Homo sapiens: one gene and its partners. The protein of the gene in region 1 purifies or fractionates together with the protein of each later gene. This does not show direct contact. Each region holds a gene or a part of one and is shown in the gene's direction. Other genes may lie near its edges.

Region 1 (3,500 bases):
AAGCAGGCCCAGACACAGGGAGTTCAGCTCGAACGTTTGCTCCTTACTTGCTGACCGACACATTCACTTCTGATGGGCTGTGCTGTGTAATGACCCAGTCCTTTCTGTCTTCCACCCAGGGGTCTCAAGTGAAGGGCCAAGGGCATGGGTAAGGGGAGGAGAGGGACAGAAGGGGACTCAGGACTGTGGAGAGTTTCCGGTTCTGGGCTGGAGAGGGAGTTGGGCAGGTGAAGGGGAGGAGGCAGGGTCCCTCTGGCCTGACTCCAGGGAGGCAGTGAAGCTGTGGCCTGGGAGGCGGGGCTCGTGCCCCTGGGTAGGTAGCAGTTAGAGCTGTGGCTTCTGTTTCCTGTAGCCTTCCTAACAGGCTCCGGCAGGCGTTAGGGCCTTCCTAAGTGCTACCCGAATGCGTGTCCAGTGGGAGGAGAAGGGGGAGGACCAAGAACCTAGATGAATGGCCCTAGAGAGGTAACATCTGTTTGGTGCCTGCTGTCATTGGAGGTGGGTTGAGTTGGTTGATGGGATTTCTCTAAAGATATTGAGAAACTGCTTTCCTCTGAGGGCAGGTGTCCTTGGGAGCTCCAGATGAGATTCTTGTTGAGGGCATCTCCGGAGGGAACTCTCAGGGGATGGAGGGTGAGAAAACTTGGGCAGGGAAGAATCGAACTAGGGGTGTAGACTGAGCAGGAGGCTGTCTTCGGGCTGATCCCACAGAGCGCTCGCTGTCCCAGGTAGCCAGCTTGAGACAAGACAGCCGGGCTTTTGGTGTCAGGCAGTCACTGGCTGTGGGCTGCCCCCCAAGAGCAAGGGGTGGGCCTAACCTGTGGTGTGAGTAGTGGAAGGCGGTTCTCTGGCCAACGGGCTGCTTGCTGCTGTTAGCAGTTGGAGAATGGATGCCTCTGCCCGGTAAAGGGCACCTGGGGCCGCGCCCGCAGCATTCACTAACTCGTAACTCTCCTTCCCTTCCTCCAAACACAAAATTCCATGACACTAGACAAGAAAGCTGATGCTTGGAAAAGAGAATTGGCCTTAAATACCTAGATGGACTGGAGAGACCATCCTTTGTGGTCCATAGCTTGACCTCTGAGTACCCTGTCCCCATCCACCTGCAGACCTGCTGAGGCTCCCCTCTGGCTTTCTCCTGCAGACCCCTCTGCCATGAACCAGTCCATCCCAGTGGCTCCCACCCCACCCCGCCGCGTGCGGCTGAAGCCCTGGCTGGTGGCCCAGGTGAACAGCTGCCAGTACCCAGGGCTTCAATGGGTCAACGGGGAAAAGAAATTATTCTGCATCCCCTGGAGGCATGCCACAAGGCATGGTCCCAGCCAGGACGGAGATAACACCATCTTCAAGGTAAGCCCCGGGGAGGAGGTTGGCTGGACCTCCAGGGCACCCTGTCCCCAGAAGAGGAGCGCACATAACGCACACAGGCAGCTCCTCGAGGCTGGCCACCCGCCCAGCTACCATGCTGCTGCTGATGCCGGGCCCGGACTAAGGGGATGCAGACGTAGACACAGGGTACACCTTTTTCCTTTTTTTTTTTTTTTAAGACAGAGTCTCGCTCTGTAGCCCAGGCTGGAGTGCAGTGGCACGATCTCAGCTCACTGCAACCTCTGCCTCCTGGGTTCAAGCAATTCTCCTGCCTCAGCCTCCTGAGTAGCTGGGATTACAGGCATGAGCCACCACGCCTGGCCTAGGGCACATCTTTTCTAACCTGCACCCTAGAGCATCGTGGGGACTGAGGGTCCCCAGAAGGCCTTCCCATAACTCGTCCTACTCACCCTTTGCTCGTCTCACTCCTATTACTCATGAGGACTTGTTCAGTGCACGCATATGCTAAAGGAAGCCAACGATCATCATCTTTCTAAAAATTTTATTTTTAAATTAGTATATATTTATGGGGTACACAGTGGTGATTTGATAAGCACAGTGATCAGATCAGGTACTTAGCATATCCATAATCTCAAACATTTGTCATTTCTTTGTGTTGGGAACAAACTATTTTTAATATAAGATTCAGATACATCATCAATCTTTCAATTGTTTAAATTTTCTAATTTTTTTTAGAGACAGGGCCTCACACTGTTGACCAGATTCCAATTTTTTTTTTTTTTTTTTTTTTTTTTTTGAGACAGGGTCTCACTCTGTCACCCAGGCTGGAGTGCAGTGGCTTGATCTCAGCTCACTGCAGCCTCGACCTCCCAGGCTCAGGTGAGTCTCCCATCTCAACCTCCTTGAGTAGCTGGGATTACAGGTGCCTGCCACCACAACTGGCTAATTTTTTGTACTTTTAGTAGAGACTTTGCCATGTTGCCCAGGCTGGTCTTGAACTCCTGGACTCAAGCAATCCACCCACCTCAGCCTCCCAGAGTGCTGGGATTACAGGTGTGAGCCACCATGCCCGGCCCAATCTTTTTTTTTAATTGATGTACTACAACTGTACATATATACTCTTTTTTTTTTTTTTTGAGATGAGTTGTTGCTCTGTTGCCTAGTGTTGCACCATTGGTGAGCAGTGGTGCAGTCATAGCACAACCTCCAACTCAGCTCAAGTGATCCTCCAGTCTCAGCTTCCTGAGTAGCCGTGACTACAGGTGCATGCCACCATGCCCAGCTAATTTTTTTTTTTTTTTTTGAGATGGAGTCTTGCTTTTTCACCCTAGCTGGAGTGCAATGGCACAATCTCAGCTCACTGCAACCTCTGCCACCTGGGTTCAAGCAATTCTCCTGCCTCAGCCTCCCGAGTAGCTAGGATTACAGGCACCTGCCACCATGCCCGGCTAATTTTTTTTTTTTTTTTTTTTTTTTTTTTTTTTTTTGTATTTTTGGTAAAGACAGGGTTTCACCCTGTTGGCCAGGCTGGTCTTGAACTCCTGACCTCATGATCCACCTGCCTTGGCCTCCCAAAGTGCTGGGATTACAGGCGTGAGCCACCGTGCCCAGCCTAATTTTTTGATTTTGATATTTGTAAAGATGAGGTCTCACTTTGTTGCCCAGGCTGGTCTCAAGCTCATGGGCTCAAGTGATCCTCCCACCTCAGCCTCCTGAGTAGCTGGTATCACAGGCGCAAGCCACTGTGCTCTCTCCAATAATCTTAATGCTAGGATGTACCTCGCATAATAGTTTTTGCTTACATTTTAGTTTTTTTGCACATGTGTGTATATGGAATGCAAAATTGGAATCAAGTGAATATCTTGATTTATAGCCTGGATTTTTTTCACCCAATATCAGGATCAGCTTTCCTTTCCAACATACGTCCACATCACTTTTCGTGACTGTAGAATTTCCACTGGAATGGTTTAGCACAATTTGGTCACTGAGTCTTGGTTTTTAGATACTTGAGATTGCTTTTAAAACCTGAACTTAAAAACCACATTGTCATGTAGGCTGTCTTAATGCTTCCCTTTTTTTCATCCTCAATTATTTTGGGGGTTGATTTCCTAGAGTTGAAAATTGCTGGGTCAAAGGCAATGCTTATTTTTTAAAACTTTGGGTACATATTT
Region 2 (3,500 bases), on another chromosome or scaffold:
TTTCTTCCAACCTGGAGCTCCACTCCCTCTCCACTGGCCGTCTTCCCAGAGTTGTGACAGCCAATCGGATGCTGAAGCAGATGCTTTTCAGGTAAGTTTCCAGAATGGGGATTCCTACTAGTATCTTCTTCTCATATCTTAGATTTTTTTCAGCCAAGAGAAGCCTGGAAAGTAGCAAAAACACATTCAGAAATACACATTTTGTTCCGGAAATCAGTTGTTATATTAAAGAGCCATTTTAAATGGTTTTTGATGGTGCATTTGAATTTCTGGGGCCTGATTTTTTTCATGAGTAAATCACATGTCACCAGTTGAGTCATTTCCTGGAGCATAGGGATATTACTGGATAAGAGAAACTTTTTTGTTCACGGTAAGAAAGTTATAGCTGGAGGAACTATCAAGTTGTCTTGTGAAACTACTCTCTCCTCCCCATAAACACAAACCCAAATGATTGTCTCTCCTTCCCCCCACCCCCTCCCTTTAGGGGCAAAATAACAGTGAATGAAAAGTGATATTTATAATTGGCTGTCAGTGGGTATGATAATATTAATATTAACCAACCTTTATCTACCTCTTACTCTGTTCCAGGACCTATGCTAAAGCGCTTTATGCACGATTTCATCCTTTTAACTCTGAGATAGGGACTATTAGCGTCTCCTATTTGTAAGTGAAGAAATTGAGGTTTAAAGAGGTGCAGTAGCTTGCCTGACCTGACCTTCATTCTCTGCTGACTCACAGCTCATATTAGTAGTTTTGTTTCTCTTTCTCCTTTAATAATTGCGTCATTACTTTATGTTTGTATGGGTCTTGGCAGTTTTCAAAGTGTGTTTTCTCATTTGCTTCTCATAAGAGAGGCAGTGATTTTAGGAGAAGTAGCCTGGGCATTTAGTCTTGGGTTGGAATACTGGCTTCTCCTTTTGGGACTTGCCTTACCTTTAACAAATTCTTTGCCTTTTTCCTTCTGTGTAGAATGGATATCATAATACCTGCCCCTAGTGGGGTGGTTGTGAGAATTAAAGGGGAGCACGGATAGACAGTAAAGATTTTAAACTGGTGGCTCATAGGCCATCAGCTTGTAGGGAAATTTGTTTGGGTCATATGGCCTTTTTTTCTTTTTAAATAGTGGCTAACAATTGTAAATGGGGAGATTTGAATTAAAAGTCTAGATTTTGGCTTGGCACGGTGGCACACGCCTGTAATCCCAGCACTTTGGGAGGCCAAGGTTGGCGGATCACCTGAGGTAAGGAGTTCGAGACCAGCCTGGCCAACATGGTGAAACATCTCTACTAAAAGTACAAAAATAGCCGGGCATGGTGGCGCTTGCCTGTAATCCCAGCTACTTGGGAGGCTGAGACAGGAGAATCGCTTGAACCTGGAAGGTGGAGGTTGCCGTGAGCCAAGATCACGCCACTGCACTCTAGCCTGGGTGACAGAAGAAGACTCCGTCTCAAAAAAAAAGAAAAAAAAAAAGTCTAGATTTCTGTCTTTTGAAAACATTGGAAACATGTGGCCGTAATCTTCGGGAACTCATTGGTGGTTGTTGCCTTAGAAGTGGGAGTGGGTGCTCTGTCACTTTCTCTGCCTGGCTCACTTCACTGTTCCCTTCAGGGCCCTGGCCTTCCTGATAATTTGCGGGTCCTCATCTATGTGTCTAGCATGGCCTGTGGGTTTTCAGTAGTGTATATGAGGTTGTAGCAAGGCCAGTAGTATAGTTCCCATTTTACAAATGAGACCAAAGCCTAGAGTCATATGGATAGGAAGCCTTGTCTATCCAATTGCTGCTTTATGTTTGTGTACGTATCATTATTCTAATCCAGGAGAATTATTGCCAACCAAATTCTCCCAGTACAGTGAGTAGAACTTGTTAAAGCACACCTATTGATCAGATTTCTGAAAAGATTTGTGGATTTTAATTTTAAATATAAAGCTCCCTCTGGTGGCTTGCTTGGTACATTATATATAAGGCTTTTTTGAAAACTTTTTTTCTACACGATGTGTCTATGTAATAAAGGCAATTTTTAAGCTTGTAAAATTGCTGCAAATAAGATGTTTCAAGATTCTTTGTAATGTCATTTAAAACAATTAGCAAAAAAATCTAGCAAATGTTTCTGTTAATCACTTCAGAATGTTTTAAGAATCCTAACATCTCGGCTGGGCGCGGTGGCTCATGCCTGTAATCTCAGCACTTTGGGGGGCCGAGGCAGGCAGATCACAAGGTCAGGAGATTGAGACCATCCTGGCTAACATGGTGAAACCCCATCTCTACTAAAATTACAAAAAATTAGCCGGGCGTGGTGGCGGGCGCCTGTAGTCCTAGCTACAGGAGAATGGCATGAACCCGGGAGGTGGAGCTTGGCAGTGAGCCGAGATTGTGCCACTGTACTCCAGCCTGGGTGAAAGTGCGAGACTCCGTCTCAAAAAAAAAAAAAAAATTCTAAATTCTCTTTTTTCAGTGTTTTGTCATTTTTTAGTTCAAGATACTTTGTAAAAGTTAAATTTTATCAAAATTTGAGGACCATTTAAAAATATAAACCAGCATAATTATAGTCTTTTATGTCCTCTTAACATTTTTGGTGAGTTACATAAAATGAGAGTGGTATAAGGAAAGAGTTTAGGATTTGATTTTAGAACTTTGGTTCATCTCCCACCTACAGCACTGACTGTCGTATAAATTTGGGTGATTCTTTCTCAATAAAATGAGGATAATAGTTTCTGTCTATCTGACTTTTGAGGAGGACAGGAATAAAGAAGCTAGGCTCTGACCTTGCATACTACAGAGCCTACTGCGTAGTTAGAGCCCCGTAAAATTCAGTCTGAAAAAGAGTACAAGGTGTTCTTGGTACTGCTGTACTTTTTTTTTCTGAACAGCCCATTTCCTTGTATGTGAGTCAGTGAGAAAATAAGGTTTGATAAGCAGAAGTGATGTCTTTTCCCTTACTTAAGCACTGCCTTTATCTCACACCTATCCTGGCTATATGTAGTTGATGTAAGTAATGCTTGTTCTGTGAGCATGGAACCTCCTTGTTGAGTTTCATAAAAATGTTAGTGAAATGCTGTTGTGTGTTCTAGAAACTATTACTTGAATACGTAGAGACTCTTATATTGTAACTTTTTTTCTTATAAACATAATGTACATTTATTGTAGGAAATTTAGAAAATACTGAAAAGCCCAAAGAACAAAATGAAAACTTTGCCATTCAGGGAGCATCACTCTTGGTTTGGTGTATGTTATTCCAGTCTTCTGTCTCTTAAGTTCTTCCCTTCCTCTCTTCCTTTTATATTGCTAGTACATGTTCATGGTAAAAACAAAACAAAGCTGGAAGATATGAACAAAAAGAATGTAAAAAACTACCTGGATTCCTGCCACCCACGAGCAGTTAGTGCTAAGAGATTGTTACACACCCTTCAAGGTTTTAAAAATAAGTTCAGTAATATTTAGAAAATGGGATTATAGTTGTACTGACTGTAGTATAGCCTAGTCTTCTCACCTAACAGTGCAT
Region 3 (3,500 bases), on another chromosome or scaffold:
TGAAATATTTTAAAAGGAAATTTAAGAGGGAGAGAGAGAAGAAACAATATGATTGTGAGGATATGTGTCTCAGAGCTCAGAAGTCAAGTAGAATAGTAAAGTTGAGTACAATGTAGAAAATAAAACAGGCCAAGAGATCTTTTCATAAGAACATAGAAGGCTGTATGTTTGTGAAAGCAGACATATAGAAATGAGAGAAAAGTGTTTTTGTTGCTTCTCAAACTTCAGCAGGCCTGAGAATCACTTGCAGGGTTTGTTAAAGCATAGCTATCTGGGCTTTCCTCCTAGAGATAATGATATAGTAGGTCTGGAGGGTGTCCTGGGAATTTGCCTTTTTTTTTTTTTTTTTTTGAGATGGAGTCTTGCTGTGTTTCCCAGGCTGGAGTGCAGTGGCACAATCTCAGCTCACTGCAACCTCTACCTCCTGGGTTCAAGCGATTCTCCTGCCTCTGCCTCCCAAGTAGCTGGGATTATAGGTGCCCGCTACCTCGCCTGGCTAATTTTTGTATTTTTAGTAGAGATGAGGTTTCACCATATTGGCCAGGCTGGTCTTGAACTCCTGATCTCAGATGATCTTGCCCACCTCGGCCTCCCAAAGTGCTGGGATTACAGGTGGGAGTCACCGCACCTGGCTGGAATTTGCATTTCTAACAGGCTCCCAGCTGGTCTTTGGACTACACTTGGATGTAAGTAGCACTATTCCAGATAATTATATCAGCCACAAAAAATAATGTCAACATGTTGTGCATCCTTCCTCCAAACCAAAAGAGGTCCAGAAAGGGCCGGTTCCATAGCATTGGCTATAGAGTTATTTTAAGATTAGAGTGATTAGTTGAGATCTGTGACAGTGTGAAGACAGTTTCTAGAATTCAGAAGTAGTTAAGTTGGTTCAGTGGTTCTCAAACTTTGCTGCACATTGGAATAACTTGAGGATCTTTAAAAAATACTGTTGCCTGGCCCCTACCCTTAAACTTTGTTTTGTATGGGCCCTGGCCTGGGCATCAGGATTTTTAAAAGCTGCTCAGGTGATTCTAATGTGCAGCAAAGTTTGGGAAGCACTGAGTTGATGAATGCTGTCAAATTCTCTTTGTAAAACTTCACATGAGAAAATGCACATTTTGGTAAGGTTGGGCAGGTTATAAAAATTCTGTGGAATCCATCACCTCTATCCGAGTCACCTGGGAATGACTTCCAGGCATCCATTGCAACATGACCTGTTTTCTCTAAAAACACTATTTAAACATGTTTCAAATCACTACTGAATTATTCTGCTGGTAGCAAAGGAATTTTGCAGTGAATTCTTTTGTAAAGCTCACCTTAGATAGTGGGTTCCTTTAGCAGAAAATTTATTTAGTAGGTACTCTATCCCATCATCCCAGCCATATATATAGTATTGATCAATGGTAACCACCATTGTCTAGGCCAAGCCTTTGGAGATGCCCAGTTCTGTCTTTTGACACTAGTGCGTCCTTGTGCCTTCTTTGAATTCAGTTAGGAATTCAGTCAGGAATATTAAAAGTGAAAGGGACTCAAGGCCATTATCTACTCTACTCCTTTATATAGGTGAAGATGTTAGTGCCAAAGAGATTAAGTGACTTTTGCAAGGCCATGCATCCAAAAGTAATAACTACATAAGATTTATTGAGTCCTTATCATCTGCCAGGCTCTGGGCTAAGTACTTTAAATGGATTATGTCCTTATGTCATTTAATCCTAAAGGATGCTATCAAATTGGCATTGTAATTATCCCCATTTTATAGATGAGGAAATTGAGGCTCAAAGAAGTTGAGGAATGGGCCTTTAGTTCTTCAGCTGGTAAGTTAATTCCAGCAGTTTGTCTCCAGATTCTGTTCTGTTAAGCATCTGTGCTAGGCTTCCTCTGCAAATTGGTGTCAGGATTGGAGCTTAGGTTTTTTGATTTCGCTATTACTTTTTAGTTATGTACTACCTGTTTTTTTCTGTGATCCACTAGTTCTATTATTCTGTCATACAAACAAATTAGACTAATGAAAAATGACTTTTTCTGTTTGGTATTGTCCTTTAATGAACTGTTCTAGCCACTAAAAGTGCATTAAAATACAGTTACACTTATCAGCAAGTAATTATGCAGGTGTGTGCTATATTCCTAAGTAATAGTAAAAAATCCTTATGAGTCCGCTTTTGCTTTAGGTAAAAGATACTTAATTTGTTGGGGGCACAGATAAAATTTGAGATTGTATCTGTATTAAGAAAAGTAATATGAAATTTTTTCTCACATTAGTTTTGGCTAATTATATAATTATATGTGTGAGTGTTTATGTGTCTATACATACATATAAACATATTTATGTATATATTTTGACCAATTTTAGTGTAAGTATAGTTTTTAGAATAATGTCTTATCTAAAATCATGTTTCCTTTTAATTTTGATTTTACATTTCCTAGCTTCAGAGGTTAACCAAAATAGTTACCTTAATTTTTTTGCGAAGGAGGAGAATCATAAAGACTTTCAAAATGCATGTTGTTATGTTCTTTAGATATCATTTGCTGTTTCTGAAGCTAAAGAGAAATGGAAGAGTGAGCTTGAAAATATGAGGAAAAATATACTTCCTGGAAAGGAATTGGAAGAGAAGATTCATTCTCTTCAGAAGGAACTTGAGTTAAAGAACGAAGAAGTCCCTGTGGTCATCAGGGCTGAGTTAGCTAAGGCTCGGAGTGAATGGAACAAAGAAAAGCAAGAAGAAATCCACAGAATCCAAGAACAAAATGAGCAAGATTACCGGCAATTTTTAGATGATCACCGAAATAAAATTAATGAGGTGCTTGCGGCAGCTAAAGAAGACTTTATGAAACAAAAAACTGAACTACTTCTTCAGAAGGAGACAGAATTACAAACTTGTCTAGACCAGAGTCGTAGAGAATGGACTATGCAGGAAGCCAAGCGGATCCAACTGGAAATCTATCAGTATGAGGAAGACATCCTGACTGTACTTGGGGTTCTTTTAAGTGATACCCAAAAGGAGCACATCAGTGATTCTGAGGACAAGCAGCTTTTGGAAATCATGTCGACTTGTTCTTCAAAATGGATGTCTGTGCAATATTTTGAAAAACTAAAGGGCTGCATACAGAAAGCATTTCAAGATACACTTCCTCTGCTTGTAGAAAACGCTGACCCAGAATGGAAAAAGGTATGTTCCTGAGAGTGAGAGAAGGTATTGAACACCAAGAATGATTATAGAAGTTGTATATAGTGTTTTTTCCTTTTTTCCTTTTAAATTTTAGTAGATGTAAGTCTTATGTTTTTGTCAGTGGTTTAAAAAAGTTTCTGTAGCGAAATCCAAAGGTTTGCATGTTTCGTTGCCAAAAAACTTTACTACTTCATAGTGTCACAAATACAAGACAAGATTTTAGCCTCTAAATATCTTTTTCCTAAAGAATATTTAGGACAAATACCTAATGCATGCGGGGCCTAAAACCTAGATGACAGGTTGATAGGTGCAGCAAACCACCATGGCACATGT
Region 4 (3,500 bases), on another chromosome or scaffold:
GGCGTGGTGGCGGGCTCCTGTAATCCCAACTACTCGGGAGGCTGAGACAGGAGAATCGCTTGAACCCGGGAGTTGGAGGCGTAGATTGCATTGAGCCGAGATAGTGCCACTGCACTCCAGCCTGGGCGACAGAGTGAGATTCCGCCTGAGAAAAAAAAAAAAGAATATTTTGTATCACTTGTGAGAGGCTAACATTAGATTGTCCAGATGAAAGTGCTACAGTTATACATTGGTATGTAATGAATTTTAATTTGGTCTGTCATTGTCCTTTTTGTGGTGCAGAGGAGTCATTCTGCCTAGAGATTGGAGCTAAAATACATTGCAGAAATTTGTTTTAGACTAGTCTCTTATGTAGATTGTGTGGGTTTATGTAGAACATTTTGTGTTCAGAATGCTTTTATTAACCTTCTTCATGGTACTCTTGAGAGGCTGTCCTTATCTCTTACTGATGATTAGACTGAGACAAGTGGAAAGTAAAGGTTAGACAAGATGTAAAGTGTGTGGTTTGAGCTGTGATGAGCACACTAGGGAGTTCCAGATACCAGTTTGATGCTTATTCAACCATTTAGGTTATCGGTCTGCGAGTTTGTTTTCTGCAGTGTGTGCATAACTAGTGTTTTGTCCTCTTAGAGGATACTCTGGGGACATTCTTGAGTTTTCTTTGTTTATTCCTTTCCGTTTAAGGACCAGAAGTAATATTCTTGAATTTTCATTTGTTCAGATCTTTGCTCTGTAATTAAGATTGCGTGAGAGTTTGTTGTTTGGGCCAGTTAGGCTGTTGAATTTCTTGGGAATGTGGTTTCAGGCATTTTTTGGTCCCTTTGATTATATCATTGTATGTGGAACTTTTTTTGAGAGAGAGAGTTTTGCTCTGTCACCTAGGCTGGAATGCAATGGCGCGGATCTTGGCTCACCGCAGCCTCCGCCTCCTGGATTCAAGCAGTTCTCCTGCCCTAGCCTCCCAAGTAACTGGAATTCCAGTCCTGGCCAGGAACTTTTTTTAAAAAAGAGGAGCACGATCATAAAATTAAGTCAGATTCTTTCCTAATCCTATCTCTGATTTGTTTTTAATTGCTTTACCTGTTTATCTCCCCTCACCCTTTTGTTGTTGTTGTTTGAGATGGAGTCTTGCTCTGTAGCCCAGGCTGTAGTGCAGTGACGCAGTCTCGGCTCACTGCAAGTCCGTCTCCCAGGTTCAAGTGATTGTTGTTTCTCAGCCTCCCAAATAGCTGGGATTACAGGCATTTGCCACCATACCTGGCTAATTTTTGTATTTTTAGTAGAGACATGGTTTCACCATGTTGGCCAGGCTGGGTCTGGAACTCCTGACCTCAAGTGATCTACCTGCCTCAGCCTCCCAAAGTGCTGGGATTACAGGCGTGGGTCACCTCACCCGGCCTCCCCTCACCCTTTCTAAAGCAGTTTTACTATCATTCTAGGAAGTAATTGTTACTGTTGGCAGCTTGTATTACATTGCTGCCGTTCCCCATTATAAGATTGAGATCTCTTAAAAAATTGGAATTAAATATATTTGGACTTTATCAACAGTGGAAAGATGATAGATGTTTGTTTTAAAATAACTATCACCTAAGTAACTAATGTCATGGTAGAAAAAATAAAAAAAATTACCTAAGCAAAAATGGAATAAAAGTCACCTTGTAACGTCACCACCCAAAGATTAAAGGAACCTTAGTATTTTATTAAATATCCTTCCGATTTGGTGTATTTTATGCTTTTTACAAAATAGGATTGTATTATATGTTTTGTAACTTGCTTTTCTCAATAAAGCTTACCACATTTTAAAACTGAATATAATTTCATTCTTACTTTGAATCTAGGATTTTATGGAAGACCTTGGGTTATGGAACAGAGAAAAGAACTCTTTAGAAGGTAAATCTTCATTATATGAAGGAGAGAGGAGAACCTTAAACTCTTAACATTTTCTTTTGTTTGAAGAAATACTAACAGTGAATAGCCCAGGTGCATTTTGATGGTTTCTCAATTGCAGAAGTTATTTTACCTTGGTCCCTTTTTTCTTCACCTAGGCCTTTGATTTTCAAACTTTTCCTGGGGAGCTGAATAAGTTTTGGGCTTCACCTTACCCAGAGCTGTTGTGTTTTTTAAGAGTGTTTTGTATGTTGGCATACATTGTAATACTTAATTTTTTTAAATTCCACTGATTACAAAAAGGTTAAAAGCTACTGTCATAGAATATTAGCTTTGTATGAGATGGAGATGCTCCAAGAAGAGGGAAATGGAGATTGACAGCCTATGAATGTTGCCTGTTTATACATATGTAATTTTCTTTCTCCTTAAGGCTCCAGAAATGGGAATTAAATACATACTTGTATGCCCCAAAAGATGACTACAAACATAGGATGTTTTGGCGAGAGATGTATTCAGTGGAGGAAGCTGGTAATCTTTTTCTTTTTATCCATAAATTCAAAATCTGTGAAGAAAACGGTTATATTTTAAATGTAGTTGTACAAGAATTTTATGACATTTTATTTTTATTTTGTAGGTAGTTTCCTTTTCTTCTATCTGGTAACTATTCAGTTAGCTGAGATTGAAAGAGTGCTCTGCGCTAGCAAGGTCATGACCATATGTGTGATATCATGGGCGTGCTAGGCTGACTCCATCTGTTCTGTGGTCATAGATTGTGCTGCTTACTTCTGCCAGTGGATTAAACAGTGGGCCACTGGGCAAAGAAGTGCTGGAGCTGGGCTAGGCCCAGGGCAAGGCAAGTGAGGCACGTACCTTGGGTGCAAATTTTAAGGGACCCCCAAAAAGTAATCAACATAAATAATATTTTATGCAATTTTTTTAAAAAACCAAAATTAATGCAGAAATTCATGATGTACACAATGCTAAAATTTTAGGTAAAGACAGGATCAGCACTACTGATTGTTCCTTTTGCTTCAGGCTCTAGTATGGCTTGGCCTTGTCAGCAGTTACTGGTCCTTAAACCCTAGTCCAGGAAAGTGGGAAGCCATTAATAGGCTGTCTTTGGGTTTTGTTTTGTTTTGTTTTGTTTTTTGAGACAGAGTCTTGCTCTGTCCCCCAGGCTGGAGTGCAGTGGTGCGATCTCGGCTAACTGCAAACCTCGCCCTCCCGAGTTCAAGAGATTCTGCTGCCTCAGCCTCCCAAAGTGCTGGGATTACAGGCTTGAGCTCCTGTGCCCGGCCGGCCTGCTATGGGTATACTTAACGTTGAGTTGGTTACATAAAATTGATAAAAAGTAGTATAGCATTGAACCGCCAAATTAGAGAGGTGCTTTTCTTTGGGAACTTGTAAATGGTGAAACATTTTTGTACTTGAAATTAAATGGTATACGCATATAGCTAACAAGATATTTGGTTACAGAGCCCAGCCAAGGCACAGAAGGCTGAAAGTTTTCTTGAATTACAAAGAAGCAATTACAGCTTACCCCATCTCCATCTAGTGTTGTGGTTTACTACTCTATTTAAGTGTGCCTTCAACTTAATTACTTTCTGGTGGTG

Evidence for each region.
Region 2: the proteins of IRF5 (region 1) and PSMB7 purify together in Homo sapiens (affinity purification with mass spectrometry; one large-scale study listed by BioGRID and IntAct). This does not show direct contact.
Region 3: the proteins of IRF5 (region 1) and CEP152 purify together in Homo sapiens (affinity purification with mass spectrometry; one large-scale study listed by BioGRID and IntAct). This does not show direct contact.
Region 4: the proteins of IRF5 (region 1) and OGA purify together in Homo sapiens (affinity purification with western blotting; one study listed by BioGRID). This does not show direct contact.

The regions. Positions count from the first base shown.
Region 1 is NC_000007.14:128,940,927-128,944,426, forward strand, and holds part of IRF5 (interferon regulatory factor 5), read left to right. Parts: exon of another isoform or gene 1-498; intron 499-1,144; 5' UTR 1,145-1,155; coding exon 1,156-1,350; intron 1,351-3,500. UniProt on the Homo sapiens protein: Transcription factor that plays a critical role in innate immunity by activating expression of type I interferon (IFN) IFNA and INFB and inflammatory cytokines downstream of endolysosomal toll-like receptors TLR7, TLR8 and TLR9.
Region 2 is NC_000009.12:124,408,943-124,412,442, reverse strand, and holds part of PSMB7 (proteasome subunit beta type-7 precursor), read left to right. Parts: coding exon 1-91; intron 92-3,500. UniProt on the Homo sapiens protein: Component of the 20S core proteasome complex involved in the proteolytic degradation of most intracellular proteins. This complex plays numerous essential roles within the cell by associating with different regulatory particles.
Region 3 is NC_000015.10:48,755,570-48,759,069, reverse strand, and holds part of CEP152 (centrosomal protein of 152 kDa), read left to right. Parts: intron 1-2,516; coding exon 2,517-3,167; intron 3,168-3,500. UniProt on the Homo sapiens protein: Necessary for centrosome duplication; the function also seems to involve CEP63, CDK5RAP2 and WDR62 through a stepwise assembled complex at the centrosome that recruits CDK2 required for centriole duplication.
Region 4 is NC_000010.11:101,811,945-101,815,444, reverse strand, and holds part of OGA (protein O-GlcNAcase), read left to right. Parts: intron 1-1,838; coding exon 1,839-1,890; intron 1,891-2,317; coding exon 2,318-2,415; intron 2,416-3,138; exon of another isoform or gene 3,139-3,193; coding exon of another isoform or gene 3,194-3,197; intron 3,198-3,500.